7 linked regions of the Homo sapiens genome follow. The protein of the gene in region 1 interacts with the protein of each later gene in a biochemical or structural test. Each region holds a gene or a part of one and is shown in the gene's direction. Other genes may lie near its edges.

The links.
Region 2: the proteins of RHOA (region 1) and CIT form a complex in vitro, tested with the Homo sapiens proteins (2 studies listed by BioGRID, with this or other methods).
Region 3: the proteins of RHOA (region 1) and DGKQ form a complex in vitro, tested with the Homo sapiens proteins (one study listed by BioGRID).
Region 4: the proteins of RHOA (region 1) and MCF2L are reported together in a solved structure, tested with the Homo sapiens proteins (one study listed by BioGRID).
Region 5: the proteins of RHOA (region 1) and SH3GLB2 form a complex in vitro, tested with the Homo sapiens proteins (one study listed by BioGRID).
Region 6: the proteins of RHOA (region 1) and ARHGAP5 form a complex in vitro, tested with the Homo sapiens proteins (one study listed by BioGRID).
Region 7: of the proteins of RHOA (region 1) and ICMT, one has a biochemical effect on the other in vitro, tested with the Homo sapiens proteins (one study listed by BioGRID).

The regions. Positions count from the first base shown.
Region 1 is NC_000003.12:49,363,477-49,366,976, reverse strand, and holds part of RHOA (transforming protein RhoA isoform 1 precursor), read left to right. Parts: intron 1-3,500. UniProt on the Homo sapiens protein: Small GTPase which cycles between an active GTP-bound and an inactive GDP-bound state.
Region 2 is NC_000012.12:119,867,321-119,870,820, reverse strand, and holds part of CIT (citron Rho-interacting kinase), read left to right. Parts: intron 1-1,619; coding exon 1,620-1,761; intron 1,762-3,500. UniProt on the Homo sapiens protein: Plays a role in cytokinesis. Required for KIF14 localization to the central spindle and midbody. Putative RHO/RAC effector that binds to the GTP-bound forms of RHO and RAC1. It probably binds p21 with a tighter specificity in vivo.
Region 3 is NC_000004.12:963,570-967,069, reverse strand, and holds part of DGKQ (diacylglycerol kinase theta), read left to right. Parts: intron 1-15; coding exon 16-106; intron 107-267; coding exon 268-322; intron 323-542; coding exon 543-604; intron 605-768; coding exon of another isoform or gene 769-991; coding exon 992-1,142; intron 1,143-1,540; coding exon 1,541-1,579; intron 1,580-1,778; coding exon 1,779-1,894; intron 1,895-2,976; coding exon of another isoform or gene 2,977-2,994; exon of another isoform or gene 2,995-3,500. UniProt on the Homo sapiens protein: Diacylglycerol kinase that converts diacylglycerol/DAG into phosphatidic acid/phosphatidate/PA and regulates the respective levels of these two bioactive lipids.
Region 4 is NC_000013.11:113,070,214-113,073,713, forward strand, and holds part of MCF2L (guanine nucleotide exchange factor DBS), read left to right. Parts: intron 1-3,500. UniProt on the Homo sapiens protein: Guanine nucleotide exchange factor that catalyzes guanine nucleotide exchange on RHOA and CDC42, and thereby contributes to the regulation of RHOA and CDC42 signaling pathways. Seems to lack activity with RAC1.
Region 5 is NC_000009.12:129,021,832-129,025,331, reverse strand, and holds part of SH3GLB2 (endophilin-B2), read left to right. Parts: intron 1-2,908; coding exon 2,909-3,050; intron 3,051-3,500.
Region 6 is NC_000014.9:32,157,304-32,160,228, forward strand, and holds the end of ARHGAP5 (rho GTPase-activating protein 5), read left to right. Parts: 3' UTR 1-2,425; downstream 2,426-2,925. UniProt on the Homo sapiens protein: GTPase-activating protein for Rho family members.
Region 7 is NC_000001.11:6,223,329-6,225,964, reverse strand, and holds part of ICMT (protein-S-isoprenylcysteine O-methyltransferase), read left to right. Parts: intron 1-702; coding exon 703-885; 3' UTR 886-2,636. UniProt on the Homo sapiens protein: Catalyzes the post-translational methylation of isoprenylated C-terminal cysteine residues.

The DNA.
Region 1 (3,500 bases):
TTTGTGCTGAAGATGATGAGGTATCTATTAATAAACTTGTGCTGCAGCCCTCCCTGTCATGACAGGGCAGCAGGTGGGTCAAGGATGTTGTCGTCATTACCACAAACAGCCTTTGAGGGTCTGCTTGTGGCCTCGGGTTGCCTGGATAGTTAGTGTTAGAGTGATTGTGTTGTTATGGTTGTCCCTACCTTAATGATGATAACTGGGGTTGCTCCAAGATATTGAGCCACTTGTTTAAGGTCATGCTGGCCCAAGGAGCTGAGCTAAGATTGAGTCCTCTGTGCAGTATGTCCCAGGACAGAGAAAGAGCACGTATTCCATGCCGTTGGTTCACTTAGATCATTTTCAGCAGTTATGATTGATTGATTGATTTAGAGGCGGGGTCTCGCTCTGTTGCCCAGGCTGGAGTTGAGTGGCACAATCTTGGCTCACTGCAACCTCCGCCTTCCAGGTTCAAGCAAATCTCCTGTCTCAGCCTCCCAAGTAGCTTGGACTACAGGCATACGCCCCCACGCCTGGGTGATTTTTGTATTTTTAGTAGAGACCGGGTTTCTCCGTGTTGGCCAGGCTTCTCTCAAACTTCTGACCTCTGGTGATCCACTCACCTTGGCCTCCCAAAGTGCTGGGATTACAGGTGTGAGCCACCACACCCAGCCTAGTTTTGGTTTTCAAACTAATATGACTTCCTTTTGTGAAGCTGCTGGAAGGCCCTGGAGGCTGGGCAGAGCTTTAGGCCACAGAGAAAATTTGAGCTAGTTGACACTCTCCTATCAGATACACACATAAATAACTTCACCTAGATCCTATTGGAATGAGAAGGACTGTGTGCCTTTGCCCTCGTTATCTAGTGTATAATTCTTGAGGGAAAAAACTGCCTCCAGAGCAAAACATTTTGTCTCTTCAGTCTCACTTTTTTCTTTTTGAGACAGGGTCTCGCTTTCTTGCCCAGTCTTGAGTGCAGTTGCAGATTCAGTTTACTGCTGCCTCGACCTCCTGGGCTCAAACAATCCTCCCATCTCAGTCCCCACCCAGTAGTTGGTACTACAGGCACACACTGCTGCGCTTGGTTAATTTTTATATTTTTTAGGCCGGGCATGGTGGCTCACGCCTGTAATCCCAGCACTTCGGGAGGCTGAGGTAGGCGGATCACCTGAGGTCAGGAGTTCGAGACCAGCCTGGCCAACATGGTGAAATCCTGTCGCTACTAAAAATACAAAACTTAGCCAAGTATGGTGGCATGTACCTGTAATCCCAGCTACTCAGGAGGCTGAGGCAGGAGAATTGCTTGAACCTGGGAGGCAGAGGTTGCAGTGAGCCGAGATCGCATCACTGCACTCCAGCCTAGGTGACAGAGTGAGACTCTTGTCTCAAAAAAAAAAAAAAAAAAAGTTTGAAAATTTATTCACCAAAAGTGGCGACAGTCAATTTATTCAAATTCTATGTACCTCAAACTCCAGGAAGGGGGTAGACTATTGGTATAATTTCACATATTCAGGAAATAACTACAGCACCTACTAACAGAACATCTATTCTAGGCCAGGCACTGTGGCTCACACCTGTAATCCCACCACTTTGGGAGGCCAAGGTGGGTGGATCCTGAGGTCAGGAGTTCAAGACCAGCCTGTCCAACATGGTGAATCCCTGTCTCTACTAAAAATACAAAAAAATCATCCGGGCGTGGTGGCGAGTGCCTGTAATCCCAGCTACTCGGGAGGCTGAGGCAGGAGAATTGCTTGAACCCGGGAGGCAGAGGTTGTAGTGAGCTGAGATTGCGCCACTGCGCTCCAGCCTGGGCGACAGAGCAAGAGTCCATCTAAAAAAAAAAAAAAAAAACTTCTGTTCTAGATGAGGGAAGACAGAATAGGCTCCCCTCAATGCCCCCAAAAAAGTAAATCAGAAAATAACAACAGTAAACCCAGTAACAGTAAATATTACAAATAACATTTGTAGAGGTGGGTCATGGTTGTATGCTGTTTTGTTTTATTTATTTTTATTTTTGTTTTTTTGAGACAGACTTTTGCTCTTGTCACGCAGGCTGGAGTGCAATGGTGCGATCTCAGCTCACTGCACTCCGCCTCCCGGGTTCAAGCACTTCTTCTGCCTCAGCCTCCCAAGTAGCTGGGATTACAGGCATGCACCACCATGCCTGACTAATTTTTGTATTATTAGTAGAGACAGGGTTTCAACATGTTGGCCAGACTGGTCTCAAACTCCTGATCCACCTGCCTCGGCCTCCCAAAGTGCTGAGATTACAGGCCTGATGAGCCACTGCACCTGGTCTATTTATTTTTATTTATTTATTTATTTATTTATTTTGAGACGGAGTCTCGCTCTGTCGCCCAGGCTGGAGGGCAGTGGCACGATCTTGGCTCACTGCAACCTCCACCTCCCTGGTTCAAGGAATTTCCCTGCCTCAGCCTCCCTAGTAGCTGGGATTACAGGTGTGCACCACCATGCCCAGTTAATTTTTTTGTTTTGTTTTGTTGTTTTTGAGACGGAGTTTCGCTCTTGTTGCCCAGGCTGGAGTGCAATGGCACGATCTCGGCTCACTGCAACTTCCGCCTCCCGGGTTCAAGCGATTCTCCAGCCTCAGCCTCTCAAGTAGCTGGGATTGCAGGCATGTGCCACCACGCCCAGCTAATTTTGTATTTTTAGTAGAGACGGGGTTTCTCCATGTTGGTTATGCTGGTCTCCCAACTCCCGACCTGAGGTGATCCACCCGCCCCGGCCTTCACAGTGCTGGGATTATAGGCATGAACCACTGCGCCTGGCAATCTTTTTGTATTTTTAATAGAGATGGGGTTTCACCATGTTGGCCAGACTGGTCTCGAACTCCTGACCTAACGCGATCCACCTGCCTCAGCCTCTCAAAGTTTTGGGATTATAGACGTGAGCCACTGCGCCCAGCCTATTTATTTGTTTTTAAGAGATGAAGTCTCACTTTGTCACCCTGGCTGGAGTGCAGTAGTAGCGTGATCATAGCTCACTGCTACCTTGAATCCTGGACTCCAGTGATCCTCCCACCTCAGCCTCTCAAGTAGGTGGGAATGCAGGCACATGTACCACTGTAAACTGCTAAGTTTTTGTATGTTTTTGTGGAGATGGGGTTTTTGACTTTTTTGATACAGAGTCTCACTCTGTTGCCCAGGCTGGAGTGAGTGTAGTATTGCGATCTCGACTCATCACAACCTCCACCTCCTGGGTTCAAGTGTTTCTTCTGCCTCAGCCTCCCAAGTAGCTGGGACTATAGGTGCACACCACTGCGCCCGGCTAATTTTAGTAATTTTAGTAGAGATGAGGTTTCGCCATGTTGGCCAGGCTGGTCTCGAACTCCTGACCTCTGGTGATCCACCCACCTAAGCCTCCCAAAGTGCTGGGATTACAGGCACGAGCCACCACGCTGTCTGGAGATGGGGTTTAGCCATGTTGCATAGGCTGTTCTTGAGCTCCTAGGCCCAAGCTGTCTACTTGCCTTAGCCTCTCAAAAGTGCTGGAATTAC
Region 2 (3,500 bases), on another chromosome or scaffold:
TAAGTAATAAATATTTTAGGCTTTGTGGGTCCTGTAGTCTCTGTTGCAACCACTCAACTTGGCCATGGTAGCACAAAAGCAGCTAAAGACAATATGTAAATGATGGGTGTAGCTGTGTTCCAGTAAAACTTATAAAAAGTCCGTGGGCTGGATTTGGTCCAAGGGCTACAGATTGCACACCCCTGGTCTAGCCCAAGCATCTGTGCATGGTGGCTGGCTTCCCAAAAGTGGAAGCTGCTAAGCTGCCTTTTTTTTTTTTTTTTTTTTTTTTGAGAGGGAGTCTCACTGTGTTGCCTAGGCTGGAGTGCGGTGGTGTGATCTCGGCTCACTGCAACCTCCATCTCCCGGGTGCAGGCAATTCTCATGCCTCAACCTCCCAGGTAGCTGGGATTACGGGTGCCTACCACCACGCCTGGCTAATTTTTGTATTTTGGTAGAGACAGGGTTTCACCATGTTGGCCAGGCTGGTCTCAAACTCCTGACCTCAAGTGATCCACCCGTCTTGGCCTCCCAAAGTGCTGGGATTACAGATGTGAGCCACCGTGTCTGGCCGCTTGACAAGCTTCTTAAAGGCACTGCCCTGAACTGGCACAGTGTCACTTGTGTCACATTCTTTTGGTTGAAGAGAGTCTCAGAGATGGCACAGATTCAAAGGCAGGAGAAATAGACTCCAGCGCTTAAAGTAAGGAGTAGCATGTGCCTACAGAATTGGAGGAACTGTTGGAGGCCATCTTTGAAGAGAGACCACCACTATCCATGGCTTGGCACGTGGGAATCACTGCTCTATACCAGGGTTGCAGACTCATGTCTTTGGGGGCCAGGCAGTGAGTATAAATGAGTCAAGTGGGCCAGTTGGAAGATGGAGTCAGACCTGCAGTGAACTCCCAAACACATCTGCTACCGGGAGGGGCAGCATTACTCAGCTCCAGCTCAGCGTCATCAGGCAGGAAGGCGAGGCAGTGTTGCCGGATGTGCCAGTGTTTCAAAAGAAGCCAGAGACTCCATTTTTATTTTTTTGTATGGAATCTCCTGATTTTGAAATATTGGCAGATAATTCAAATTATCTTAAACACTACAGGCCAAACAAAACATATCTGTGGGCTAGAGACAGTCTGCCAGTTTGTAACTATTTCTCCAGATCATGAGTAAATTTGGCTTTACGATGGTCACTCAGTTCTTATTACTCTAGGTTGTTCAAATGAATTAAAAAAGCTGAAATTATATGAATAAACCCCTGGGCACACATGAAAGAAGTGAAAAACCCATTGTTTCCTATTGTAGAAACATGGAAGCATGTCAGAGCCAGAGGATCCAGAGGAAATATTCTCACTAGCCTCAGACCCTCAGGAGTGAGGGAGCTTTTCTTGTTAATGGCCACGCTTGTGCAGTTTTCCTTCCCAGGTGCTGGTGAAAGAAACCCACAGTCTTGGAATCATGGAAGTGATACCATAATGACTGTCAGTTGACGTTGCTTTAAAGAATGAAGCCACAGAATTGTGCTGTTAGCATGTCGTGAGCAGTTAGTTGAGTTGGTGGCTTGTAATTTACTCTGTGTGGATGTTATTGATCAAAGCTTTTCATTATTGACAGTGTCTCCATCTGCTGTTTGCTGTTTTTAGGGGAAACCACCCTTTATGACTCAACAGCAGATGTCTCCTCTTTCCCGAGAAGGGATATTAGATGCCCTCTTTGTTCTCTTTGAAGAATGCAGTCAGCCTGCTCTGATGAAGATTAAGCACGTGAGCAACTTTGTCCGGAAGTGTAAGTTTGGGGAACTTTTTCTTGAAAACTGTCCTGAGAGAGAAAAACTAGAAAGATGCTTGAGGCAGAATGAGTTACTGGTTGATAGTAGTCGGTAAGAACTCTGGTTCTATATAAGACAGATCCAGGTTCAAATTCAGGCTGCACCTCTTATAGCTGGGAGACCAGGTAAGTTGGGCTTCTTGGTTGCAAGCGACAAACTTAATTCAAAGACTGAATTTAGGCCAGGTGCAATGGCTCATACCTATAATCTCAGCCCTTTGGGAAGCTGAGGTGGGTGAATCGCTTGAGCCCAGGAGTTCAAGACCAGCTTGGGCAACATGGTGAAACCCCATCTCTACAAAAAATACAAAAATTAGCTGGGTATGGTGGCTTGCACCCGTGGTCCCAGCTGCTGAGGAGGCTGAGGTGGGAGGATCACTGGAGCCCGGGAGGTTGAGGCTCAATGAGCTGTGATTGTGCCATTGCACTCCAGTCTGGGTGACAGAGTGAGACCCTGTGTGAATAAAAGAGTGAATTTATTGGCTCATGAAACTGAGAAATCCAGGAATGAGTTAAGTTTTAGCTTTAGGCATAGCTAGTTCCAGAGACCTCAATAATATCCCGTGGCCCTGTCCTTATACTCACTCAGGGCTGACTTTCTATTAGGCAGAGTAGGCACGGTGCTTAGGATCTGTGATATTTAATTTTAATGAATTTAATTACTTTTAATTAACTGAATTAAATTTTAATTTGTTTTAAAATTATAGGAAAAATGAATATAATAATGTATAATGATTCTGGATTACATTCATCTTTATACTAATGTAGTCATAAAATATAATTTTTGTTTTTTTTGGAGACAGAGTCTTGCCCTATTACCCAGGCTGGATTGCAGTGGTATATCATGGCTCACTGCAGTTTCAACCTTCTAGGCTCAAGCAATCCTTCCACCCCAGTGGCTGGGACTACAGGCTCACACTACCACGCCCAGCTAATTTTTGCTTTTTTCTCTGTAGAGATAGGGTCTTACTATGTTACCCAGGCTGGTTTCAAACTCCAGGCTTGAAGCAGTCTTCCTGCCTCAGCCTCCCAAAGCTTTGGGATTACAGGTGTGAGCCACCATGCCTGGCCCCATAAAATATAATTTTTGAATTCTTTTTTGTTTTTAATGGAGGAAGGGGCTGAGGAAGGCAAAAGTACCTAGGGCCTATGAAGTCATATATTGGCCTTGCCTTCACCCTGTTTCTGACTTTGCTTGACTTCCATGTGATGAGGCAGTTGGCTGTTAGTGTCCCAGTTTCATACTCTTACATTAGTGTTTTTCAACCAGTGGGTGATTTGACGTTTTCGGTTGTCAGAGCTAGTTGGGGGTGGTGGTGTGTGAGTTTGGGGGGAAGGGTCCTACTGTCAGTTAATGGGTGAGGCCAGAGATGCCACCAAACACCTTACAGTGCACAAAGCAGCCCCCATAACACAGAATTATGTAGCCCACAATGCCAACAGTGCTGAATTTGAGAAACCCCACCTTGTACAACATTGCTGTGCAACCAACCACCCTAAATATTACTGACTTAAAACAATAGTCACTGTGGCTGGGCGCGGTGGCTCATGCGTGTAAGCCCAGCGCTTTGGGAGGCTGAGGCGGCGGATCACTTGAGGTCAGGAGTTCCAGACCAGCCTGGCCAACATGGTGAAACCTTGTCTCTACTAAAAATACAAGAATTAGCTGAATGTGGCAGCGGGCGCCTGTAATCCCA
Region 3 (3,500 bases), on another chromosome or scaffold:
ACTGTGTCCCCACAGGGTGGGCGTGGCCTACGTGTCCGTGCGAGTGACCCCGAAGAGCACGGCCCGCTCTGTGGTGCTGGAGGTCCTGCCGCTGCTCGGCCGCCAGGTGCGTACCCTGTGCCTGCTCCCCATGCCGGCCAGACTCGGTGGGGGGTCGCTGTCCCCAGGAGGCCAGGCCACCATCCCAGCCCAGGCGTGGCTGTCCCCGCGGGTGTCCTGAGGTGGTGGGGGCCTGCCCAGACCCGATGCCAAGCTCTACCCCAACAGGCCGAGAGTCCCGAGAGCTTCCAGCTGGTGGAGGTGGCGATGGGCTGCAGGCACGGTGAGTAGACAGCCCGTGCTGGGCGTGGCGGTCCCTGCACCTTTTGGGTTTGGACCTGCTGCCCAGGCTTTCCTGCAGGGTGGTGCCGGACATCAAGGCCGGGCTCTGCCCTCCTGACCAGCTCCACCCTGCATCCCCACGGGCCCTGGGGGCTCCGGGCAGCTGCTTCCAAGGTGGGCGAGGAGCCGGGTGCTGACGGCCTGTGCCCTCACCTCTGCAGTCCAGCGGACGATGCTGATGGACGAACAGCCCCTGCTGGACCGGCTACAGGACATCCGGCAGGTGAGTGGGTGTGGACGCCGGCCCCCAGGGAACCAGCAGCCCTCAGCCACAGCCTCTGCCCCACAGGGTGGGTGTGCCCCAGACGCCGAGTTCTCCTTGGCTAGGCAGCGGCTGTCCTGGCTGACAGGGCAGCGCCCTCGTCATGAGCTACTTGGTCCCTGCAGGGAGGCCTCGAGCTGCAGATCTCCCCGAGGTCCTCGAGGGGAACGGACAGGGGTTGTCCACAGCAAGGAAGCCTCTGTGGCCCCTTTCCTCGTTTTCCTGTTGACTTAATTCCTGGGAGTGTTCCTGATGCCCTGTTTTGCTGTTTTGCGGGTGAGGAGACAGAGGGCCTGGTGCGGTGGTGCCGTTCTCCCCGGCCCAGCATCCCCGCCCCTCTCCCTGCAGATGTCTGTGCGGCAGGTGAGCCAGACGCGGTTCTACGTGGCAGAGAGCAGGGATGTAGCCCCGCACGTCTCCCTGTTTGTTGGCGGCCTGCCTCCCGGCCTGTCTCCCGAGGAGTACAGCAGCCTGCTGCATGAGGCCGGGGCTACCAAAGGTGTGACCACTGTGGCTGGCCGTGGGCTGCTGGCACGGGGCAGGGTCGAGCGGCAGGCAGTGGGGCTGCAGTGCTGAGCCGGCTCCTGCCTCTCCTTGAGCCACCAAGGCCTGAGCTCCGGGTCCAGCCCACGTCTCTTCCTCCAAGAGGCTCTGGAGCCTCTCGCCCTCTGTGGCCGTTCCCTGCGGTGCTCAGCCTCTGCCTCTCCCTCTCCCTCTGGGGGGTCCTGTACCTCCAGGGAGCTGGGAGTCCTGCTCCTGGAGTGGGGCAGGGGTACTTCCTGGGGAGGCTGCCTTTGGGGTGAGATGTCACCCCTGGACAGGCGGAGGGGCTGTCCCTGGCCCCAGTGCTGTGTGTCCTTCGCCTCCCACCGCCCTGACCACAGCCTGCCTTTGCAGCCACCGTGGTGTCCGTGAGTCACATCTACTCCTCCCAAGGTGAGCTGCCCTGAGGGACGTGGTCACATGAGGCCCAGGGGTGTTCCTGGGGTGAAGTGGGACAGCCCTGGCCCTCACGTAGCACCTGACCTTTCCCTTGGGCAGCCCTGGGCTGGGGAAACGTCCTGGTTTGGTTCCTGCCCTGGCACCGTGGGGGCCATGGGACAGGCTCCCCCTGAGTCCTGGGCTCCTGCCGCAGGCGCGGTAGTGTTGGACGTTGCCTGCTTTGCGGAGGCCGAGCGGCTGTACATGCTGCTGAAGGACATGGCTGTGCGGGGCCGGCTGCTCACTGCCCTGGTGCTCCCCGACCTGCTGGTGAGTGTGCGGTCAAGCCGGCTCTTCACACACCCCAGGGGGTGGCCAGAGGGAGGTCGGGGTCTGCAGGTGCACAGGCCCCACAGCCAGACTCGCTGTTTTCATCTGGCATCACTTCCTTGAATTCACTGGGGGCTTGTAGGTGCCACCTTGTTTGTGCCTCACAACAGCAGGAAGGACTCTGTTGCCCGTTTTACAGCAAGGGGCCTGAGGTCAGAGGGTCAGCGCTCATCCGAGGCTGCCCAGTAGGTGATACCAGCTCCGTGGGGCACCGTGGGGTCAGGCCCAGCTTCCACGCTGCACCTGAGGCCTCCACCCAGTAGGGAGGCCCACAGGACGCAGCTCCTGGATGTGCCGGGCCCCGCTGCGGCTGCCTCGCCAAGGGCCAGAGCGTGTTTGTGACCAGCTGTCAGGATCCCAGGCATGGCCCTCCCGGTACAGCCTCAGCCTCACTCCCCCTGCCCGGGAGGCCTTAGGGCCTCTGCTCTCTGCCTGGAGCTCCCCAGGCCAGTCAGTGCAGCTCCCAAACTTTGAACGCTGCCCTTCAGACCCACAGTGCCCAGAAGAGGGGGCACCTGGCAACAGGGCAGGGCTGGGGGAAAGGGGGATCTGGAACATGGAGACAGGGCAGGGCCGGGGGGAACGGGGGTCTGGTCCGTGGAGACAGGGCAGGGCCGGGGGGAACGGGGTTCTGGCCCATGGAGGGGCTGGAGCCTGGGACTCCACGCTGCACACCGTGCCTTCACATTGGCCTCTCGTCCTCAGCCCATCTAGCCCCCAAAGGGTCCCATGAGGACCCCCCAGGTGTCCATGGCTGTTCTACCCCTGAACCTTGACCCTTGATCGTGACCCCAGTCCAGGCGAAGCAGAACTCGAGCAGAATGAGTTGTCTGTGGCTGGGACGGGAGATGCCTGTGGCTCCCTGCTATGCCTCCCTCCTGTGCCCCTACACCCGGCCTTGCCTGGCTCAGGACAGGGTGGCCATCCCCACTGTCCCGAGGATGCAGCCCCCACCCCAGCTCCACTCGCTCTGTGGGCAGAGCCAGGTTTGGGGCCGACACGCGCTTTCTCTCTCCCGTCAGCTGCCTGCCCTGGGGTGAGTGGTAAGTGGTGACCGCAGGCGGCTCTGCCTGCCAAGTGGGTCACGAAGCCCCGAGTGTGTCCTTGCCCCCAGCCACGGCCGGCCCCTGTGCCGCTGCCCACCCTGTGTCTGCACCCAGCCTGTGTGTCTCCTGTTGCCCAGCCTTCCCCGCTGTGGGGGCCCCAGCCTCCTGTCGTAGGGTCCCTAGCCTCCTGTCGTAGGGATCCCAGCCCTGAGCCCGCTGTGTCTAGATCCCTGGGTACTGTTTCTTGGGGTTGTGTGTGGGGAGATGGACTCTGTCCTGTGGTCGAGGGACGCCGCGTGCCACCCTGTGAGTTAAGAGCTTTTCTCGGCTGCTGTGTAGGTGGGCGGTGGCCTGGGAGCCGCCATCCTCCAAAGGTGTGCACCAGAGGCCCCCCAGGGGACAGGCCTTGGTCTCGCTGGCACAGAGTGCCACGCAGAGTCCCACGTGGATTTCCAGCCTGGACTCGCGCTGCATGGCCCAGGCGGGTGTGGTCTGTTCAC
Region 4 (3,500 bases), on another chromosome or scaffold:
CACGGGGCCTCCTGTGCCTGCGCCCTGGTCCCAGTGCCGGGAGCTGAGCCGTGCCACCCAGTTGACTTTGGCTTAATGCAGAAAAGTCTCCGCTTGCCAGGTGGAGCCTGTGAGATTAAGTCAGGCTGAGCCTTGAAATGCACGATTGATGACTGCGTCATTGTATAGAAAGGTGATTGAAAATCAGCTCACTGGGATGCACTTACACTGCATTATTCGTAAAGTAGCAGGAAGCCTTTGCTCTCCCTTCATAGTCATTTGCATGCCCTTTTATTCAACATGCATGTAGGATGTGCCTGCTGTGTGCCAGACTGTAGGACGGCGTCACAGTCATGAGGTGCACAGCGACACGGCCAGTGCAGCCAGACCCAGACGTCTCCCTCCTGCGGCCCTTCGTGGACTCACCCATGTCCCTCCTCAGCCCCCGGCAACCACTCATCTGTTTCCGTGGCTGTGCTTTTGCCATTTCAAGAATGTGACATTAATGAATCCCACAGAATGTCACTCTCGGGATTTGTTTGTTTGCTCAGCACAGCTCTCTGCAGACCCCCAGGTGCCGGTGGCTCACTCATTGTGTTCCCCGGTGTGGACGGACCACAGTTCTTTCAATCATTCACCTGTTGAAGGGTATCTGGGTTGTTTCCGGATTTGAGTATTACAGATAAAGCTGTTACAAACATTGATATACTGATGTTGGTGTAAATGTAAGTTTTCATTTCTTGGGCTTAAGTGCCCAGAATGTAATTGCAGGGTTATATAGTAGTTGCATGTTTCGTTTAAGAAAATGCCAAACGGTTCTCAGTGTATGAGAGACTAGTTGCTTCCCCTTTCCCCAGCACGTGGTGGGGTAGTGATTCTTCATATTATGCTCACATCCTGATGTGTGTGCCATCTCACGGTGGTTTTCTGTTGCGTTTCCCCAGTGTTGATGGTGCTAAACACCTTTCCACGTGCTTATTTGCCATTCGCATATCCTCTTTGGTAAAATGTCTTATTTCTGTTGCCCATTTTCTAACTGGATTGTTTGGTTTTGTGCTTTTGTTTTACGGTTTTGTTACATTTTGAGAATTCCTTATATACTGCAGATACTAGTTCTTTGCCACATATGTGGTTTGCGAATATTTTCTCCTGGTCTGTAACTTGTCTTTTCATCCTCTTTAACAGGGTTTTTCACGTAGCCAAAGCATTTAATTTTGACGAACTCCAATTTGTCAATTTCTCCTTTTAAGGTTTATACTTTTGGTCCTAGATTCCAAGTATATTCCCCTAAGCCTTTTTCCCCTCAAATTTCATAGTTTTACATTGAAGTCTATGACCTAATTTGAGCTAATTTTTGTATAAGGTATGAGAATTAGATCATGATTTGTTTTACCTCTGGATGTCCAATTGCTGTAGCACTGTTTGTTGAAAAGGCCCTTTCTTCCACTGGATTTCTTCTCCACCGTTGTCAAAGCTCTGGGCACATTTGTGTGGGTCTGTTCTGGAGACTCTCTATTCAATTATGTTTATCTACATACCTCTTCCTCTGTCTGTACCACAAGGTCTTAATTGCTGCAACTATATAATGTCTTGAAATCAAGTACACTCATTCTTCCCTCTTTGTTTTCTTTTTCAAAATTGTGTTAGCTTCTAGTTCTTTTGCCTTTTCATGGCAATTTTAAAATTATCTTGTCTACATATATGAAAACAAATTTCCTGGGGTTTTCATAGGAGTTGTGTTAAACCTATATTTTAAGGAGAAGAAATGTCTTTACTGTGTTGACTCTTCTAGTCAACAAACATGGTATTCCCAACATTTGATTTCTTTCATCAGTGTCGAGTAGTTCTCAGCACACAAGTTCAGTACGTATTTTGTTTGACTTACCTTTAATATTCCACTTTAAGAAGTCATCACAGTATTATATTTTTAATTTTGGCATTTATGTATTCATTGCTGCACATAGAAACACAATTGATTTTTGTATATTTATCTTGTCTCCTGCGACCTTGCTGAGCACACGTATTTGAGATGGTTTTTTGTGAAGTCCTTGACATTTTCCATATAGACCATCATGTCATGTGCAAATAAGGACAGTTTGGTTTCTTCCTTTTTGAAGATATGCCTTTTATTCTACCCCCCACCCACAACACCCTGCCCCACTGCGTACTGCCCCAACTAGAGCTTCCACCATATGATAAGAGTGGCGAGACTGGACATCTCTGCTTTGTCCCCAACCTTAGGAGGAAAGTGTTTAGTTTTTCACTGTCAGGTGTAATGTTAGTTGTAGGATTCTTGTAGATGCTCAATAAAACTATCTGGGCCTAGAGATTTCTTTGGGAGACTTTTAAAATTATGAATTCAGTGTCCTTAATAGTTACGCAACTATTGAAACTATCTGTTTCACAATGAGATATAGTAGTGTGCTTTTCAAGGCAATGTGTAGGGTTGTTTATAGTATTCTTTCTTATCTTTTTGACGTCTGCAGGGTCTGTAGTGATATTCCCTGTTTCATTTCTGATATTTGTAATTTGCATCTTTTCCTTTTTTCTTTGTCAATCTAGATTGAGATGTATCACTCCTCATCTTTCCAAAGAACTCGTTCTTTGTTTCATTAGTTTTCTCTGTTGTTTTCTGTTCTCAGTTTCATTGATTTCTGATCCTACCTTTATTATTTCTACAAATTGCTTTGGTGGGAACTTACATTCTTTATTTGAGACTGTTCCTCTTTTCTAACATACATATTTAATAAGAACACTATAAATTTCCCTCTCATCACTGATTTAGCTGTGTTCCACAAATTTTGATGTATTGTATTTTCTTTTTCATTTACTCCAGCTTTTTTTTTTTTTTTTTCCAATTTCCCTTGGAACTTCCTCTTTGACCCATCCATTCTTTAAATGTATGTTGTTTGGCTTCCAGTGTTCAGAGATTTTCCCGTTGTCTTTCCATTCTTGATTTCAAGTTTGATTCATTGTAATCAGAGAACATACTCTGTATGATTTCTGTTCTTATAAATGTGTTGAGATTTGTTTTGCAGCCCAAGAATATGGTCTTTCTTGGTATATGTTCCTCACTTGAAAAGAATGTGTATTCTGCTATTGTTAGGTGAAGTTTTATACATATCAGTTAGATCCTGTTGGTTGATGGTATTGAGTTCTTCTATATCCGAGCTAGTTTCTGAGAGGTGGTGCATTATCCATAACTCAGTGGCTGTGCGTAACATGGAGAGAAGTCTCACTCATCAGCTGTGCCAGATGCAGGGGGTTCAAGGATGGACAAGAATCCTGCCTTCCTGGCCTTCAACCCCAGGCCATCTGAACTACAACCCCCTTGGCACTGGGATGTCTGCGTACACACCCATTCTCAGGATCATTTCCAATAACAAAAATTAAAAGCTTTTGTATTTAAAGGAATAAGTGGTCATATGTTTTAAAAATCAGGCCAGGCATGGTGGCTCACACCTGTAATCCCAGCACTGTGGGAGGCCAAGACGGGTGGATCACCTGTGGTCAGGAGTTCA
Region 5 (3,500 bases), on another chromosome or scaffold:
CTCGGCCTCCCAAAGTGCTGATATTACAGGTATGAGCCACCATGCCTGGCCTTTTTTTTTTTTTTTTTGAGACGGAGTCACTCTGTCACGCAGGCTGGCGCAGTCTCAGCTCACTGCAGCCTCCGCCTCCCCGGTTCAAGCAATTCTCCTGCCTCAGCCTCCCGAGTAGGTGGGATTACAGGCGCCCACCACCACGTCATGCTAATTCTTGTATTTTTAGTAGAGATGGGGTTTTACTATGTTAGCCAGGCTGGTCTCGAACTCCTGACCTCACGTGATTCACCTGCCTTGGCCTCCCAAAGTGCTGGGATTACAGGCGTGAGCCACCATGCCTGGCTTCCTTGCTGTCTTTTTTTTTTTTTGAGATGGAGTCTCGCTCTGTCACCCAGGCTGGAGTGCAGTGGCGTGATCTCGGCTCACTGCAAGCTCCACCTCCCAGGTTGATGCCATTCTCCTGGCTCAGCCTCCCGAGTAGCTGGGATTACAGGCGCCTGCCACCACGCTTGGCTAATTTTTTGTATTTTTAGTAGAGATGGGGTTTCACCGTGTTAGCCAGGATGGTCTTGATCTCCTGACCTCGTGATCCGCCCACCTCGGCCTCCCAAAGTCTTTCTTTTTTTAAGGCAGGTTCTTGGTCTGTCACCCAGGCTGGAGTGCAGTGACATGATATTGGCTCATTGCAACCTCCGCCTCCTGGGCTCCCACCTCAGCCCCTTGAGTAGCTGGGACTACAGGTGGGTGCCACCACGCCCAGCTAATTTTTTTTTTTTTTTTTGAGACTGAGTCGCACTCTGTGGCCCAGGCTGGAGTGCAGTGGGGCGATGCTCATTGCAAGCTCCGCCTCCCAGGTTCATGCCATTCTCCTGCCTCAGCCTCCCGAGTTACTGGGTCTACACGTGCCCGCCACCACACCCGGCTAATTTTTTGTATTTTTAGTAGAGAAGGGGTTTCACCTTGCTAGCCAGGATGGTCTCGATCTCCTGACCTCGTGATCCGCCTGCCTTGGCCTCCCAAAGTGCTGGGATTATAGGCATAAGCCACCGTGCCGGGCTTTTTTTTTTTTTTTTTTTTTTTTGTAGAGAGGAGGTCTCACGGTTGCCCAGGCTGGTCTTGAACTCCTGGGCTCAATCCATCTGCCCACATCGGCCTTCCAAAGTGCTGGGATTATAGGCATGAGCCACTGCACCTAGCCAAGGCTTTTCATTAATGATGGTGATAATAATACTAGCTAACATGTATCAGCCCCATACTGTGTGCTGGCCAAATAGCCAATGAACTAGATCCTGTTATCTGCATTCTCCAGGCAGGGGCTCTCAGGTCCAGAAGGGAGACTTTGCCTCTTCGAGCCTTGGTTTCCTCATTTGGGAAATGGGGTGAACGCCACCCCCCTCAAAGGACTGGGTGAGGTAATAGAGCCACGAGGAAATCTGAGCCTCTGCTCTGGAAGGTCTCATTTTGGGGAGTGTGACGAGGAAGAGGAGGCAGAGCCAGCCAGGGTGGGGGAGGGAGGCCAGGAGCAGCTGGCCCCAGGCAGGAGCTGAGGCCATACCCCTGGCAGCTGGGCCCTCCCAGCCCTGCAGGGAGAAACCCAAGCTCTGCTACATAATTGATGGCTGCTGAGCTCCTGGTGGCCGCCCAGCCCGCCACCCCCCACCGCAGCTGGAGCCAACTGCAGCCAGGGATGATTCATGGCTGACCGACTCCTGCGTGGCCCTGCCCCTTGCTCAGCCTCAGTGGCAGCATCTGTGAAATGGGAAACAGCCCTCCTTGCATTAGAGGTTGATGAGGTCATGAGGAAACCCTTAGGACAGGGCTGGCCAACAGTGTTTGTTGTTCCTTATCTTACTCCTGCAGGTCTTCACCCTGGCTGTGACCTTGGGCAAGCCCTTTCTCTTAGCTAGAGAAGGCCTTGGTGTCCCCGTTTGGAAAATGGGGACATGTGTTCCAGGGCCCTCTTAGATCAGAGGGGCCAGGACTTGGACCAGTTTCTGGTTGTTCCTAGGTAGCCCCCACGGCTTCTGCCAGCTTTGATGGGGACCCATGCGACATCCGGGCCCTGGGTGTGCCCAGCCGCTGGCTCTGATAGGCTGGCAGTGTTTCCATCTACCCTACCAGGTGGCCAAAGCCAACCGTTTGGCCATCCTCCCTCCCTGCATTCCCCTTCCTTCCCAGACGTCTCTGCACCCATCAGCTCATAGCACCGGTGCCTTACGTGGGGCAGCAGCACTGTAGCCGACCCAGCCTTTATGTCTAACCCACATCTTTCCTCTTTCATCCTCATAACCTATGGGGGAGGTGCTATTATTCCCTTTTTTCAGCTCAGGAAACCAATGCTCAGAGAGGCAGAGCCCCTTGCCCAAAGTCACACATCTTGACAGTGGCAGAACTAAGACTTGAATCAGGTCCTTCTGAACCCCGACCCTGGGTTCTTCCTCTCCCTCCTCTGGCACCCTCTCCCTAGCAGCTCCCAGCTGCCCATGGAGCCCCCTGATAACCCCAGACCCTACTCCCTGCCCTGTTTGTCCCGAGTACTTTCTACCAAGTCCTCTCCTTCAGAGTCAGACTCAAAGGACCCTAGGGCTGGCCTCCCCAGGGTTCCTCACCGCACTAAGCTGTGTGCCAGATTGTATATGAAGGTGCATTTTTGTGGGGAGAGAGTGTAGCTTTCATTGGATTTCCAAAAGAAGCTGTGATTCCCACACTCTGGCCCAGCCACCTCATTTCACAAAGGGGAAAACAGTGAGGCCCTGCCAGGTCACACAGTATCACACTCAGGGCTGGTTCCTTGACCCTGGGGCCTGCCTGGGTTCCTGCTGGTGGGGAGGGGCAGTCCTCCCTTTCCCCACCACTCCCCCACCTCCTTCTGAGCTCTCCCCCTCCCCACCCCTTGGCCTTCCCCTCTGCGTAGTTCACGGAGGAGAAATTTGGCCAGGCTGAGAAGACTGAGCTTGATGCCCACTTTGAAAACCTTCTGGCCCGGGCAGACAGCACCAAGAACTGGACAGAGAAGATCTTGAGGCAGACAGAGGTGCTGCTGCAGCCCAACCCCAGTGAGTGCGTGTTCGTGGGCCCGGGGAGGGATGTAGTCGTGGGGCAGGGATACAGTAGGAGGCCTGGCCCTGTTGTGGCATAGGTGGGGCGGGGCTGCAGCCGGGGTTTCAGCTAGACTCTTGGGCTCAAGGCTGTTGAAGAGGGACAGTTAAAAGAAAATGGGGGACTCTGTGTTGGGCTGCCAGACACTCCAGGGCAGTGGAAACACTGAGTTTTGCACAGAAGAGTTAAAATGCCTGGAAGCTAAAACACACGTGGGAGAAGAGGCAGGCAAAACACACACCTGGTTGGTCACTCTGTTGGTTTTTTTTTTTTTTTTTTTGAGGTGGAGTCTTGCTCTGTCACCCATTCTGGAGTGCAATGGTGCAATCTTGGCTCACTGCAACCCTTGCCTCCTGGGTTCAAGCGATTCTCCTGCCTCAGCCTCCTGAATAGCTGGGACTACAGGC
Region 6 (2,925 bases), on another chromosome or scaffold:
CATAATTAAACTTTTTTCTGGTAAGTTACTGGAAGGTTTCACTGTTTAGGGACCTATCATATGAGACTTCTTAAAGGATTAAAAGAATAGGATAGTCTCATAATTGTGAGTAAACATCAAGGCATTATATTTTACAATACTGAATAAAATTTCATCTACACACATGTTGCCATTGTTTCATTTAAGGTTCAGTGCTTATAGTTAACTACAATATTGGACCTAACAGGATCTAGATTAGCAATATAAAGAAGCATAGTGGTACTCTGTTTCACACTTTCAGTAGATTTATTAGAAGTCAAATTCTATTCAACAGACACTTATTAGGATATACAACTAATTTAAGAATAAAATTCCAGGCACAATATATTTTTTTTAAATGGTATTTGTTAGTAGTGCTTCTTCCCCTTAACATTTACAGTGTAAATACTGCAGGTAACCGCAATCTAAGTTAGCCAAAAAGCAGCTTTTTTTCCCATACTGTATGTAAATAATGTAGACCTGGGTTTTTTTGTTTATTTGGGTTTGTTTTTTTTTTTGAGGTACTGGAATCTAATTAATATCTCTTAGGTATCAACAAAAGGGAACAATTGGAATGAGAATTTAGGCCTTAGCTTCCATGGTGATTTTTAGTTTTTTATACAGTAATAATTGTGATGCTATTTGTCAACTGGATATAAATACACATATAATTTTAAAAAGTCAAAAGTGCTTTTGTTTCTTTGTTTAATGTAATTTTTGTGCTTCACCTACAGGATGCTGCAGTAAATTAAATATCAGTGAAGCTTCTGATGTATAAAGAATGCTATGAATAAAACATTAAGAAGCTGTGTAATTTTAAGTTATAGTTGCCTCTATTTTTACCATTTCATTGGTAAAAATTAGCTAATTTTTTTCAAGTGAAATGAAAAATAAAAATATAAATTTATCAATATGATGGAAATCTTATTAAGGAGATGTATTATTGAATTTTCACTGTACCTGAAAAGGAGATTCAAAATTTTTTCTGGGGATGTATATAGGTGAAAATTTGATTTTTTAAATTATCAGGAAAACAAGATAATGCACAGATTTCTAAGACTAAGATCTTACCTGGATGTGATTTTTGAGCTGTGGCTAGACATTCTTTAGAGCCACTGGAAATATTTTGAAAACTATTCTAGTTATAGCAGAGCTGCTAATATTAACGAATATATTTGTGTCTTCATGGTTTGTGACTATTAGGCCAAATTTTGTGGTATATGTTGTCAGTCTGGATCTGGTGAGGTCTGTTCAACATGAATCTTTGTGTTATCTTGAATTTAGTAGTTTCAAGGTACTTAAATTCTTAACAGTTTCTAATTTGTTTCAATACATATGGGACATGGTTGATTTTTTTACTGTATTAGAACTCTTGGAAGTTCTTAGCCTTTTCAGGTTATGAAATACCTGAAAGTAAAATTTTCTAAGATTTAATAAGGGAAGATACTATTCAAATCATTTTCTTAGGATAGCATCTTTACATACAATGAGAGGATTGTACAAGCATTAATCTCATATTCCAACATCCAGTTACTTGATGTGATCCAAGTACCCTGGTCTTTTTGAAGCAGTTAAAATCTAATTAATTAACTTTGGGAGTCTTCACTATTCAATTGATCCTCATCATTGTCCTATTTGCATGACTCCATTTTTTCCTCCACTATATGAGTTTTCTTTGTCAGGGGGAGAGGAGTGGGAAGAGTCACAGAATCTCATATTCACATCTTAATTAAATTGTGTGAAATTAGTCTTTTGTGGAAATTCTGTAGGCAGTATGATTTTGAAAAGCTAACCAATGATAATTAGCATTTTAGTTAATACTAAATGCATAAAATTATAACCCTTGAAATTAATTTGGTGCTGGCAGTTCTGGTTTAGTCATTTTTACCAGTAGTTAGTAGTATTAAGACCTGCAGTATATGCACTTTTTGAGTAGCTGTCAAATAATTGTAGTTGAGAAACAACTTGTTTATTCTCACAATTCAGATTTTCTATTCAGTTTTGTCTCAAATAGTAAGTTATTGTGAACAATTTAATAACGGCCCTCCTGTTCTAGTTTGCCTAATATTTTAGTTAAGATTTAGTGTTTTAACCTATTTTTTTAAGTTTATTTTTTGTATTAGATTTTATTTGAATAAGTTATGTGGGTTTAGTAATTGACCTATTTATTCATTGCTTCACTAATTCATCCAGATTAGTTTTAAGTGTGTATATGTATTTGCTCACCAGATCATTTTCTTGGGACCTTGAACTGTGAATGTTTTGTCCTAACCATTTAATATTTTCTAGGTACTTGCTGCAAGTTCTTGAACTATTTTACCAGCTTTAACTTTGGGGCTCTTAGTTTCTTTTCTCCAGATTCTTGTTATTTTATTTTATCCAAATAAATATTTAGGTGTTCTAAGAAGTAGACTTCTGTTTAATTCCGTAAAATAAGTAAAATCAGAAGCTGTACACACTATCATACTGTTATTATTTGGGATTGTTTATAAATGTAGGTGAAAGGATAAAAAATACCTATCTGAGAGAATACAGTCTTTAGATATCCTTCTTGGAAATTTGACTTAGAGATTTTTCATTTGTTGGCAGTCACAGGCATAGCTGCTGAATGTCTTTTGGTCTGTAATATTTGAAGTGAGAAACATTACCAGCAATGTACTTTTAAAATATAAACTAAAGCCAGGCATGATGGCTCATGCCTGTAATCCCAGCACTTTGGGAGGCTGAGGCAGGGACATCACTTGAGGTCAGGAGTTCGAGACCAGTCTGCCAATATGGCAAAACCACATCTACTAAAAATACGAAAGTTAGCCTGGCATGGTAGTAGGCGCCTGTAGCCCCAGCTACTCAGGAGGCTGAGGCATGAGAATTGCTTGAACCTTGGGGGGGCGGAGGTTGCAGTGAACC
Region 7 (2,636 bases), on another chromosome or scaffold:
GAGAATCACTTGAGCCCAAGCAGTTAAGGCTGCAGTGAGCCATGATCACGCCACTGCACTCCACGTGACAGAGTGACAATCTGTCTCGGGGGAAAAAAAAGAGGCAAAGTGGGCACAGCGTGGGGAGGGCAGGAGACTGGGGAAGTGGGCGAAGTGCTGCTCTTCTGGGGTTGGAAACCCAGACTCAGGGGGTGGGGTTCAGTCTCTGGAGCTCTCTGAGCGTGGAGGTAATCTGCTGGAAGGGGCATTTCGGAAGCTGAGTTTTGTGGCACTGTATCTCGTGCTGAAGCAGAGGCTGTGGGTTTAGGAGGCAGAGGCCCAGGCAGCTGTGGTGTAAGCGAATGCATTTGTGGTGGGAGGGTCCTGGGCAGGAAGGCAGCGTGCATGGGACCTCATGTTGGGGAGCTCACACCTGGAGGTGGGGGGCATTGCTGTCACCCCAAGCTGAGGGTTGAAATCCAAGAGGTTGATCTTGTGATTTACAGATCTCTCTCATGTAAGAGGAGCAACAGGAAAGCACGTGAGAAAGGCCTGCAGCACTGAGTGCTCAGGGCTAAGGTGACAGTACTGCTCCCAGAGACCCTGACGGTCTCAGCAGGGCATGGGCACAGAAATCCTCTGGGTATTAGAGACAGACGCCTACCAAAGCACAGGGCGTCATCCCACGGTCACCCTGATGAGCCTGGTGTCTCCCTCTGTTAGGTGATGCTGTGTAACCCCATCTGCGGCGTCAGCTATGCCCTGACAGTGTGGCGATTCTTCCGCGATCGAACAGAAGAAGAAGAAATCTCACTAATTCACTTTTTTGGAGAGGAGTACCTGGAGTATAAGAAGAGGGTGCCCACGGGCCTGCCTTTCATAAAGGGGGTCAAGGTGGACCTGTGACGGGCAGTGGCCCCGGTGACCTTGGGGCCTCCGACCCTGTGCAGCCTGGGACAAAACTGTTTCCGGTTGGCCGCTGCCACATGGATTTTCTTAATCGTTTTATGTCATTAGTCACTCTTCTGGAATGTCACTCAAGACCAAGCGGTCAGAAGGCCTGAGGACCCAAGGCCCCACTGGAGCAGTCTGTCCTTATGCCGAATCAAGGCGGAACATGGGTGAAAGACGAGTAAGGGGCAAATCACAGCAATATTCCACAGCGCCCTCCAGAGTTACCTGGGGAGGACCGAGGCCACACGCCACTGCCCCCGAGGCCAGAGTGTAAGTAAAGGATAACCAGGACTCGCTGGGAGAGATGGACTCTGTCCTCAGCAACACTCCACAGCAGAAAGGGGTAGCAGGTACCCCTTCTTATCAGCGGTAAAAATGCATTTACAACCTTTCATTTAACCGAAAAACACAGACCGCTTTAACCTCTTTATTTCTGTCCCCCACTGCATGAACATCTATACAATTTTAAAAATACTTCCTCATAGGATGCTTTGGCCCTTCATCTATTTAATCATAGCTACATACCTATTTTTTATAAGTAGCAGTACACATTCAAAGGGGTATTCCTAGCTCAATGCTTGGTGTTCTAGTTCAACTTTTATCCTGCAGCAAGTAAGCCTAGATAACTCTACACGATTTGGCTGAGTGGCTTTGTGTGACCGTGGCCCCAGGCCAAGGGGATCATGGCCCTGGCTGGCTTTCCCGGGGGTCTCAGCTCCTGTTGTCAGTGATAGGCGGCTCAAAGGAGCATCAGTTTCTTTTGATCCAAGAAGTGCTTACTGAATGCCTGCCCTGTGCGTGGCCTTAAACATTGAGAAGTGCTGCTCTCCGTTTATTTGGGATTTGATTCTCATTTTACCATAGCTTATATTCTCAATTTCAATGCCAGTCTCAGAACTCTTGTTTTCTGTGTTCTGTTCTCAAAATTACATTGTCCCTCATGTCATTTCAAACTGTTTTCCAAAGGGATTTGAGCATATACAACTACAAATCCAAGCAGATTGACTCTCAAAAATAATCTTAAATACTGCAAATAGTCCCAACTAAGATTCAGTCAGTATGTTTGTTTTGCAAGTTTGGGAGAGTAAGTTGGCTTTGAGTCACACATCGAAGCTTTAAGAGGTGAGACGCTGGCTTCATTCTGGACTAGACAGGAACTTGGCCTCAGCGTGAGATCCTGCCATGCAGTGTTGCGGTGGCACTGAAGAAGTGTGAATGTGAAGGCGGCGTCGGCGCGGGGCCAGAGCACCACTCTGCTGCCCCACCACGCGGCCTGTGAGGAGCCACTAAACCTTTCCGTGCCTAGACCTCCCCATCTGTGGAATGGGGTCAATACCACCTACCTCACAGGGGTGTTGTGAGGACTGAGAAGAACAATGTCAAATGTTTTTAATACTCAGATGTGGGAGCGACATCAATGAAATCTGTACTGTATGAAAGCTACACAAAAATGGGCAGACATTTGGTTAATTGTGCCAGATACCTAAAATGTATGTTCAGAAAAGCATTTTATCAACTCAGAAATATGACTTATTTCTAGATTTCATGGCTTAATGAATTTTTTCATTGTTATATATACCAAAGAGGCTTACGGGTTCATTGATTGGTTTGAAAACCAGACAGACGGCCGGGCGCGGTGGCTCACGCCTGTAATCCCAGCAATTTGGGAGGCCAAGGCGGGTGGATCATGAGGTCAGGCGTTC